Homo sapiens: one gene and its partners. The protein of the gene in region 1 interacts with the protein of each later gene in a pairwise test. Each region holds a gene or a part of one and is shown on either strand. Other genes may lie near its edges.

Evidence for each region.
Region 2: the proteins of ZSCAN1 (region 1) and GOPC interact in binary tests that used the Homo sapiens proteins (3 or more experiments, as listed by UniProt).
Region 3: the proteins of ZSCAN1 (region 1) and NFYC interact in binary tests that used the Homo sapiens proteins (3 or more experiments, as listed by UniProt).

Annotation. Positions count from the first base shown.
Region 1 is NC_000019.10:58,036,974-58,040,723, reverse strand, and holds part of ZSCAN1 (zinc finger and SCAN domain-containing protein 1), read right to left. Parts: intron 2,997-3,750; coding exon of another isoform or gene 2,888-2,996; coding exon 2,518-2,887; intron 275-2,517; coding exon 180-274; intron 1-179. UniProt on the Homo sapiens protein: May be involved in transcriptional regulation.
Region 2 is NC_000006.12:117,574,894-117,578,643, forward strand, and holds part of GOPC (Golgi-associated PDZ and coiled-coil motif-containing protein), read right to left. Parts: intron 2,579-3,750; coding exon 2,555-2,578; intron 460-2,554; coding exon 284-459; intron 1-283.
Region 3 is NC_000001.11:40,757,623-40,761,372, reverse strand, and holds part of NFYC (nuclear transcription factor Y subunit gamma), read right to left. Parts: intron 3,253-3,750; coding exon 3,079-3,252; intron 1-3,078. UniProt on the Homo sapiens protein: Component of the sequence-specific heterotrimeric transcription factor (NF-Y) which specifically recognizes a 5'-CCAAT-3' box motif found in the promoters of its target genes.

The DNA of each region.
Region 1 (3,750 bases):
CTGAGCCCCAGGAAGCTTGGGGAATCTGTGGGGCAGGCGGGGAGTTTGGAGGCCGGGCTTCCTGGGAGCGCTGGGGACAACCTCACACAGTCCTTGGATGGGGCATCCTTGAGGCCGTCCCAGAAGCGGCACGCATGCCCTGGGGTGCAGGAGCACGGAGCTGGGGGCCCCGGGCTCACCTGCGATGGTTCTTTCTGGGACCTTGGACTCTTCCCATCTTCCTCCTCACCGAAACTCCAGTCCTGGGGTTCGACCGAGTCCAGAGATACCAGAACTGTGCGGGAGAAAGGGATCGTGAGAGGGGCCTGTTCTTCCCAGAGCCCCCAATTCTCCAGGCCTTCTGGGGAGGGCAGACTTTCCCCGAACATCCCTGCAGCACCCCTGAGGCGCAGGCAAGAGTGGCTGCAGGGCTGTCATTCTGTCCCTCCATGTGGCTGCTGGGCAGGAACCTGTGGTGACACCGAGGGCCGCTGAAGACAAGTACCCTCTTCACTCATACTCCACACCCCTGTGCGCCTCCAGAAGCCCACGAGGACACACACTGCAGCACTGACTAACTAGGGAGGCCCGAGCACTGTGAGCCCTCTGCTCCCCAAGCCCCCCGGGGCTGTGTGCACAGAGTGCACAGAGGACGACTGCTGAAGCAGGGTTCAGGACACCATTGACAGAAGGGTCAAGACGTGGGAACCAGGCCAGGCGTGGTGGCTCACACCAGTAATCCCAGCACTTTGGGAGGCTGAGGCAGGAGGACTGCTTGAGCCCAAGAGTTTGAGAGCAGCCTGGGCAACACAGCAAGACCCCCCCCTATTTATTTTTTAATTAAAAAAAGAAAAATTCAAGATCACGGCCACCTCTGGGGTGTCAGGCAGAGCGGGGGACAACAGGACTAGGAGACGTGCATGGGGGTTCAGCTGATTCCACTGGTTGTTCCTTTTTTTTTTTTTTTTTTTTTTGAGACGGAGTCTCGCTCTGTCGCCCAGGCTGCAGTGCAGTGGCGTGATCTTGGCTCACTGCAAGCTCCGCCTCCTGGGTTCAAGCGATTCTCCTGCCTCAGCTTCCTGAGTAGCTGGGATATAATATAGGCACGCGCCACCACGCCCGGCTAATTTTTGTATTTTTAGTAGAGACGGAGTTTCACCATGTTGGCCAGGCTAGTCTCGAACTCCTGCCTTGTGATCCGCCTGCCTTGGCCTCCCAAAGTGCTGAGATTACAAAGCATTTCCTAGGTTGGGCTTTGATAAGGGTGGGTGGCCGGTGCAGGGCTGTTCATTATACTTGCTCTACTGTTTCATAGGCTCAAAATATGGAATGTAGAAAGCAGACCACCGCTATGGAAGACAGATAGAGAGCCCTTTGCTCAAAAACGTTGAATTTTGAGAGTGACCATGGAACATTAAAACTAGCAAGGGTGGCTCTGGGCTGGGATGGCTGTGAGGTCCACAGAGCGCCAGAAGCCAGTGCTCTTGGGCCCTCTACCCCAGGATCAGAGAGTTCAAAGGGCCAATTCATCTGGCTTCTGCCTTGCAGCTTACAGGGCTACCCTTGAGCCTCTGGAAAGCTCAGCTGTCACAGCTTTCCTAAGTGTGGCACCGGCTGCCCTGGGGCAGTAAGGGGACCCTGGACCCTGTGTTCTGCAAACTGCTTATCACTGTTGGTCTACGGAAATGCTGTAGTGGGAGGGTGCAAAGGGAGGGCCTGTTCCTCTCCCTTGCTCCACCCCTCTTTTCTGTGAGCTCTGATGCAACCCTTCTCACTCCCAGCCTTTGCTCCTGCAGCGTGGCTGCCTGGCACCCTCCTTGCTGGGGCCCTGCTGGGGAAGCCCTCCCGAGGCCACAGTGCCACGACTGCTCTCACCATCCGTGGCTGCCTCTTTTGGCCTCCCAGTGTCCAATCCCTGCACTTTTGTCACTAGGAAAGAAAGAGCCCCACTCATGGGACTGGGCCCTGGGTGGATGGAATCTCGACGTGGGGTCACAGGGGCAAAGATGCAGAAGGACAAAGCCCTGTCAGGGGAGAGGGGAGCTGAGAGAGGAGACAGGGAGGGAGCCCAGTTTCAACCCCAAATTTCCCAGCTCCCAGAGTCGGGATGCAGACCTAAGCGTCTCTCCCCACCATCAGCCAGCGATGGGGCCTGCGCCCTGTGAAGGCTTAAGGATCTCTAGGATTCCTGAGTGTTGCAGGAGGCGCTGCAGGTGGCTGGGAGGAAGTGGCGAGGCAGCGTCCTTCCCAGAGAGCAGCCGTGAGGAGCAGCAGACACAAAGCCACAGGACAGATGGACGCATGGGAAATGGAGGGATCTTTAATCACCGACTGAGTGAGAAATTCGAGGCAGATGAGGCGTGCAGCACATTTATATGTAAAAATAATTAAAAACACAGCCGCGGGGCAGGAGAGGTTTGCTGGTCGGGAGGGGCCGGGCAGGGGTGGGAGCGATGTGGGCGGGAAGGAGGGCAGTTCGGTCCTCGGAGACGTCAGGCCCCCTGGCCCGGCCCGGGGCAGGAAGCCTGCGCCTCTCACCTTCCTGCTGGCACATCTGTGTGAGGTCCTCCACCAGGCTGGCGGCCTCCCTGCAGCTTCGGGGGCCCTGTGACTGCACCCAGGTCCGCATCTTGCTGGGCAGCGCGCCCAGGAACTGCTCCAGCACCAGCAGCTCCAGCATCTGCTCCTTGGAGCGCGCCTCGGGCCTCAGCCACTGGCGGCACAGCGTCCAGAGCTGGCCCAGCGCGAGGTGCGGCCCGCTCGCCACGTGGTACTGGAACTGCCGGAAGCGCAGACGCTGGGCTTCGGTGTCCCTGGGGCTTGCTGGCCCAGGGTCTGCGTCCTGCTCACTCGGGGTTGGGGTCTGGGGGCGTCTGGGGGAGGCAGGGGCTTTGGGCCGTGGAAGCATTTCTCTGGCCACAGTGCCCCTCTGAGGGGTGTGTGTGGACTGGATCCCGAGTCCCAGTGGCTCCGGACAGAGCCGGTGTGGCAGGCGGACAGAATCAGCAATCAGGGGCCTGCAGAGAGGGGCAGGGACAGAGGGGTCACATCAGATGGTGGCCCTCTGTACTCAGGATGCCCCTCGGCTCCTTACTTCCTTGTTCTGACCTCCAGCACCCCAAGGAACCAACCTGACCTCTTCCCACCTTCTGACCTAATCTTCCACATGCCTCTCACAGGCTACTTTGCACTGAGTTCAAGCCACTGGCTGCCCCAGGACCTTTGCACCTGCCATCCCACCCCAGCCCCTCCCCTTCCCACCCCAGCTCCTCCCCTCGCAGATGTCCTGGCCATCATCCTTATGGCACTGTCTTCATAACCTCCATGACTTTCTGAACACAACTTTTCCCCTTACTTAGTGTCTATCTCCCTCTCATTTAGTCATTCAACACACATTGACTGACGAGCTGCGGGAACAAGAATGCCTGCCCCGTGGTGTGGCCAGCACTGCCCAGTGAAGTTCCTACAGGGATGTAAAGATTCTCTACCCATGCAACCACCTACGTGTGGCTAGGAGCACCTGAAATAGGAACTGAATTTTAAATTTAAATTCCATTTAAATGGAAGCAGCCAGGTGGGCTACATAATAATGGATGACACCACCACCAGCAGCAGGTCTACCCATGGTGTTATCTTTGCTGTCTTCCTGACTTTCCTACCAGGTCCAAGCTGGGGGTGGAGACCAGGAAGAGGGCAAGGGAGACTGGAGACTCTGAAAAGAGAGGGAAAGTGGGAAGAGTAATTTTAAAATAACCTTTTGTGGCCGGGTGC
Region 2 (3,750 bases), on another chromosome or scaffold:
CATGGTGAAACCCCATCTCTACTAAAAATACAAAATTTAGCTGGCCGTGGTGGCAGGCACCTGTAATCCCAGCTACTCAGGAGGCTGAGGTAGGAGAATCGCTTGAACCCAGGAGGCAGAGGTTGCAGTGAGCAGAGATCATGCCACTGCACTCCAGCCTGGGCAACAGAGCAAGACTCCATCTCAAAAAAATAAAAAATAAAAAAAGAAAGAAGTAAGAGTCAACCTCATTAAATATCCAATTTGTCACTTAAGAGTACAATAATACCCATTTTTTACACACCTTCCTGCCAGTTCCTTATCCAAGTACTTGGCAGCTAGTCTCGCCCCATATACTTCAGCCTGGAGAACAGCTATATGTCTACGAAGGGCTTCATTCTCTTTTCTCAACAATTTCACTTCAGCTTCAAGTTGTGCTTCTTTCATTTTTTCTTTTTTGTTTGCCTCAAGCTCTCTTTCCTATGTAATTTTTAAAAGCATATAATTTAATGAAAATAAAAACTCTTTAGCACTAGACCATGTTCCTGAAAATGCACAAAAGCCTACAGTTCAACAATGTATCATCTCTATAAAATGGAACACAAAGATCTGGATGTAGTTCTTTTGAACTAGTACCATAACATCTTGGAACTACTTCTAGATAAAATAATTGCACGCCATGGGTTACCCTGATATGGAGTATAGTAAGAAAAGTAGTCTACTCTAAGCTCATGTTATCACATATTAGTAAAAGTGGCTTCAATGGATAGTTGAATCTGCTATTTACTTCTAAAACCCTTTTGAGAGTTAAATAAGGACCCCAATAGACATTTTAACTGTTATTTATAGATCAAAAAAACCACGTAAACACTGAAAACTTGCATTTATCCTGAGCAGAACTGCTTTTACAGAATCCACAAATCCTATGAAAACATGGTTACATTTGTTCACAATATGTGGAAGACATTATTCCCTATACCCCCTTTGTCCCTTTTGTGAGGACGTAAATAAAAACCTACCTTAGCACCAGAGAAATTGTTTCTCTTGAGGAAATGATGAATAGTATTGTTTCTATTGTATGGGCACTGATTATTTTACATAATTATTTCCCTTTTTATTCTGGATATTGAGAAGCTAAGAAACAAATTTAAGCAAATTTTCAGCAATTCATGGAATATATTTTGGTACTAATTTAATGTGCCTCCTTTGGTCTACTGTTTTGAACAACATCAAAATAGATATATTTGAATACTAGTCAATAAATACGATAATCCTAAAAAAAATATATTTACATATACACACACACATACAAGCTAAAATTAATGACAACTACTAAATGCTAGATATATTTATCACTTCTTTGATTAAAAATATTTGTTATATATATGACAAACAGATGAAAGATTAGCAGACTCAATTTCTGGGAAAAAAAAGATTAGAACGTAATTTCTAGATACTGGTTTTAAAGGATTCGAAAAACTCAATCTAGAATCCTCCTTTTAACATAATTTTGGAATTATTAAACTCTTATTTCAGAACCTATGTCCTAAAAGGGCAAGTATCTGTTTCAAAAGAAACCAGTTTGGAGATACAAACAAAAATCTTTCTTATGACATGTTAAAGTTGATGCAACTTTTGAAAGAGCACTCCTAGACCAAGATTTCTTTGGCTTATGGGCTAAATAAACTTTATGTTGATGATTACCTACTTTCAATTACTTTAATGAGCTATTTATACTACATTAATGAAATGTGGGAGACATACTAAGCTACCACTCACTGGGGTTTTAATGATTCAAATCCCTAATGAATCTGACAAACTCTTGGGCCCGAAATTAACAGAGGTAAGCAAGAATAAGATGAAGGAAACTGAAGTTAACCATTTCTAGATTTCCAGAAAAAAATTTTCTTGGTTCTTAGTTAACCTGTTTGTTACTAGGTAACACCCAAGATGTTCATTTTACATTTAGATACCAAAGATTATATCTTCAAAAGAGGTAAAGCCATAAGACAAATTGGAACTTGATTAGGTTGGGGTAATGAGAAAAATATTAAAAATGTATTGTTATTTTCTAAAATAACTTCTGCTAAAGCATTTCAAAATTCAATTGTTTCAAAGGCCATACGATTATTCTCAAGACTCTTGAAAAGTTGTAACGCAGTAGATGAAGAAGAAACCAACATGCACATTCTTTTCTGGAAATAATTTCAAACAGAAACTTAAGGGGGTTAAAAACTAAGCCTGCTTGATATATCTTCAATACCCTGAAGTGGGAAAACCAATTGCTCTTTGAAGTAGAGGTATGAGCAAGCTACAAGGCTCAAAAATTGTCAAAAATTGACAGGCTCTGCAAATAATGGCTATAAATCACTAACAAAAGAAAAATGTTTAACAACATGCAGTGAGAAAAGAGCAATGGGCCATCCACTGAACTTTTCAGGTACTGGAACATTAAAAAATTGCCATTATTAATGCTATTTTCAAATACAATGAGTGACAACATATAATATGCAAATAAAACACTAAGAACACTTCAGCGTGACATATTAAAGCAAAACAGAAACAATATACTTACCAGCTCCTCCACAGAGGGGCCAGACTTCAGATATAAGAAAAAAGTTTTATAATTAGAAAAAGATCAAACAAATGATTTTATTTAGTGGTATAGTCATTATAAGGAAAAATCCCACATGTTGGATATCATTTGGGTAAAGTTCATTAGAACAAATATATTTGCAATCTATAAACAATAGTAACTGTAATAGCATTAGATTAAAACTTTTTGTTTTATCAAAATTAGTCAACATAACTGGTACAGTGTTCTTTTCATCATACTCTTTCAAATTCTAATGTTAAAACTTCAGGTAAATTCTTTTCTAGAGAAAATTTAGATTGTTTCTGAATGTTAATGTCAAATAGCTCGAAGAAGCAGTTATGAGCTTTTATTTCAGTTAAATAAAACCCTTCTAACACAGATTCACAGAGTTAGAAAACTTAAGAGTTTAACTTAAAATTATTTTCATGAATTTTAACACATCAGTACTAGGAACTAATTAACCAAATGAAATTAACTGAAAACAAATAAAACTTATAAATGTATTACTCTCATTATATCATCAACATCATTTCATGTCCTGCCTCTGCCAAGCAATAGCTGTCTTATTTATTGCTGTGTCCCATATAGGAACAAAATATCTGCTATCTCTTACACACTCAAAACATATGTGGTACACAGTGGCAGGAAAAATGCTTACAATATATTAAGAGCAAAAGAAAAGAATGTGCTACTGGTTGGTACCCAATTCCATTTCTTACTTCTTCCTTATTAACAGACTCCAGTTTTACTGGAAGTGGCCATATGGCCAATAGGAGACTGACATGCAGCTGGGGATGGTCAATGAAATGCTGGCAAAAATTACTGAGAAAGATTTAATAATAAGTTCTTTAAAGAAGGCTAACATCATGGAGAAGCATCTTTTTGCCCTTTCCTTAGATTAATCCTTCTTCCTGCCTGAAATGCAGACATGAAGAAATCCTGAGGATGGAAACCATAAGCTAAAAATGGCAGAGCACAGTGATGGAAGGAATCTGGATCTCTAATATTTGTGGAGCTGCCGTATCAACTCTAGACTGCCGGTCTCAGATTTCATTTCAGAGAAAAATAAGTACTGTTCAAGAATAATCCCAATGTTACTTGGGATTTCTGTTATATGCAACTGAATTTAATCCAACTGATACAGTAGGGCAAAAAAAAATCTTATATGTTATAAT
Region 3 (3,750 bases), on another chromosome or scaffold:
GGTCCAGGGAGGTGTGACACAGCACAAGGCCACCCTGAAGCAGCAGGATGGTGAAACAACAGCCAGGAAATGCTGGGAAGGACCAACTTCACCATCCTCACAAGCCTTATCAGCTCCAAGCTGAGCACGTCTGGGTTGGCAGAGAGGAGCACAGATGAAATTCTCGCTGACTAAAAAGAAATGCATGCTGCCAACTCATCACTGTACTGTATCAACCCAATTTTCCCGAGAGGATTTCCAAGGTATTTCTAAATCATTTCAGGAAAATGAGGGCTTGTGTTAGCATGGCAGCTGTCAAATCATGTATGGTGTGCCCTGCTGTCAGGGCACAACAGCCATGAGCTTCTTAGGATGATCAGCCAATCAGAGCCTGCCCTTGGCAGACTCCCTCTAAGTTCATTCTGTAAAGGGATAAAGCCTTTGGCAGGTAAAGTTTTCACCACTGCAGAGGCACAAGCATTAGCCAAAGAAGGTCCCTTAGGCATCATGATACAGTCGAGGCCTTGAGCCAGTGACTGAGCAGCCATTATCTTTGAACCCTCCTGCCTAGCACAGTGTCTGGCATAGAACAAGCACTCAATACATTTTTGTTATATGGATAAGTAAAATGAGCAGAGAATAAATCCTAAAATCATAATTACCTTTTTTTTTTTTTGAGACAGTCTCGCTCTGTCACCCAGATTGGAGTGCAGTGGCACGATCTCAGCTTACTGCAACATCCGCCTCCCAGGTTCAAGAGATTCTCCTGCCTCAGCCTCCCCGGGTAGCTGGGACTATAGGCGCCCGCCACCACGCCCGGCTAATTTTTGTATTTTTAGTAGAGATGGGGTTTCACCATATTGGCCAGGCTGGTCTTGAACTCCTGGCTTTGTGATCCGCCCACCTCGGCCTCCCAAAGTACTGGGATTACAGGTGTGAGCCACTACGCCCAGCCATAATTACTTATTTTTAATTCTCTGTGTGTTTGTTTTTGAGACAAGGTCTTGCCATATTGCCCAGGCTGGTCTCCAACTCCCGGGCCCATGCGACCCTCCTGCTTTGGCCTCCCAAAGTGATGGGATTATAGGTGTGAGCCACCGCACCTGGCCAAATCATAATTACTTAAATCTACCTCCTAACTGGGCATGGTGGCTCATGCCTGTCATCCCACCACTGTGGGAGGCCAAGGTGGGAGGATGGCATAAAGCCAGGAGTTTGAGACCAGCCTGGGAAACATAATGAGACCCCATCTCCACAAAAAAATTAAAAATTATCCAGGTGTGGTGGCACATGCCTGGGAGTCCCAGCTCCTCGGGAGGCTGAGGCAGAAGGACTGCTTGAGCCCAGTAGTTTGAAGCTGCAGTAAGCTATGATTGTGCTACTACACTCCAGCCTGAGTGACGAAGTGAGAACTTATCTTTAAAAAAACATCAATCAATCAATCTACCTCTACTCCATTTTTTTTTCTTCTAGGCAAACTCAGCTCCTTATTAGAATATACGAGGCTGTCCAGGATGTGTTTACTATCTATCTTTCCAAACTTGCGTAGATGGTCCCCTACGCTGACTACTTTCCTACGGCCCCCTGTACTGTTTCTCACCTCTGAGCCTTTGCCTGTGCTGTGCCCTCTACTGGCAATACCACCCTTTCCCACTTTCTTTGATTAATTTCCACTGTTCCCCAAGACTCATATTATTCCCTTCAGAAACATTATCTGACCACCTCGTTCACATCTTTCTCAGCTACTCATCCCCTCCCCTACATACATACACACACATATACATATATATACACACATATATAATACACACACACATACACACACACACACACATATACTTTTTTTTGTTTTTTTTTTGAGACAGGATCTTGCTCTGTCACCCTGGCTGGAGTGCAATGGCACAATCACAGCTCACTGTAGCCTTGACCTCCTTGGCTCAAGCGATCCTCCCAACTCAGCCTCTTAAGTAGCTGGGGCCATAAGAGCATGCCACCATGGCTGGCTAATGTTCTGATGTTCTGGTGGAGACAAGGTCTCACCATGTTGCCCAGGCTGGTCTTGAACACGTGGGCTCAAGCAATCCTCCTGCCTCGGCCTCCCAAAGTGCTGGAATTACAGACATGAGCCACCACATGCCCCTGCCTTTTTTTTTTTTTTTTAATTAAAGAAGAGGTCTTGCTGTGCTGCCCAGGCTGAAGTGCAGTGGCATGATCCTACCTCACTGTAACCTCAAACTCCTGGGTTCCTCCCACATTGGCCTCCCAAAGTGTTGGGATTACAGGCATGAGCCACTGCGCTGAGCCAAGGTACTTCTTTTAATGTGTTCCTTTAACACCCTGTACACATTCCCACGTGGTGGTACAACCTTTAAGTATTTGTATCCCCAACTAAATTGTGAATTCCTTGAAAATAAGGACTGTTTTATTCATGCTTGTATCCCCAATACATAGCACAGAACTTTACCCTCAGAGGATGCTCAGTGTTTGATGAATAAATAATGATTGACAGAGAATTTGGATTCAGAGCTCATAGTACAGAGTTCTCTGCAGCCTCACATGACCCCCAACAAACATGAATGCTACTGCTCTTAACACTACTACTGGGGAGAGAAAGAGTCCTCTGATTACTATCGTAAAAAGAGAAGGTCACTTAACACAAATATGGGACAGAGAAATGACGGGGAGAAGGAGTATGCAACTTGGCAATGATACCTAATCTCTCCCTTTAAGGGCACAAATTCCACTTCTCACACAGACACACAGACAGCAGGCATGGAGTTCACTTTAGCACCTCTACTCTTCATAAGGCATTTCAGACATTTTTTTTTCCCTTCTAAAATTTCTGAGCTAATAGGGATCCTGGAGAACATACTGTCTAGTACACTTTCCTCATTTGACCTTTGAGAAAAACAGGGTCCAGAGAGATTAGGGTAACATCTCACCCCAGTAGCTGAATCTGGGGAAAAGTTCCAGTTTCCAGACTTTAAATCCAGTGCTCTATAATGATCTGGCTGCCTCTCTGCCCTCATCAAGCTCTGCCCATCCAAAAACCTAAGGGGCACTGTCTTGCTGGATGGGCATCCTCAGCAGCTCACAGACCTGGCCCTGCTGAGGCTGTGCGATGATGATCTGCCCAGGCTGGATGGTGGTCGTGGAGCTGGTGGTCTGCTGGCCTTGCTGCTGGCCCTGGACTTGGACAGCGGTGGGTTGCTGAGCCAGCGTGAAATAGTACTGGACTGGCTCGGCAGGAGTTACAGACTGGCGCACCTCCTCCTGTTGGGTGGAAAGAGAGGCAGGTAAGAGGAAAAGAACCAACTCAGCAGCCGCCACAGTGAATTTCCACTCTTCCCCCAAACAGGCTATGTGCAGTTGCCTGCTGAATGCTGAGCTCTCCACATTTGAAGCCAAAGGAAAGTGGAATTCAAAGAGACCAGTTATGCTAAATCAAACTAAAAATAACAGATCCTATAGGCTTCACAAAACATACAGCCAATTTCTGAAGTACGAAATAATCACCCATTGCATGATAAGTTGCAAACGGGCAAATAAGTACCGTAACTAAAAACCACACACCAGCAGTGCTTGTCAGTAAATGCTGTCAAGGCCTGTGATCTGAGAACAGTGCTAATTGCAAGTGTTGGGAAGATGCTACCCAAACATCATGCCTCTCAGGCCTGGTCCCAATCTCCCAAATAGGCAGCACTCTTCTCGTTTTAGCCCCACCACTTCAAGGGGGACAGAACAGGTTAATGGGAAACAGGGCTTTTCCTG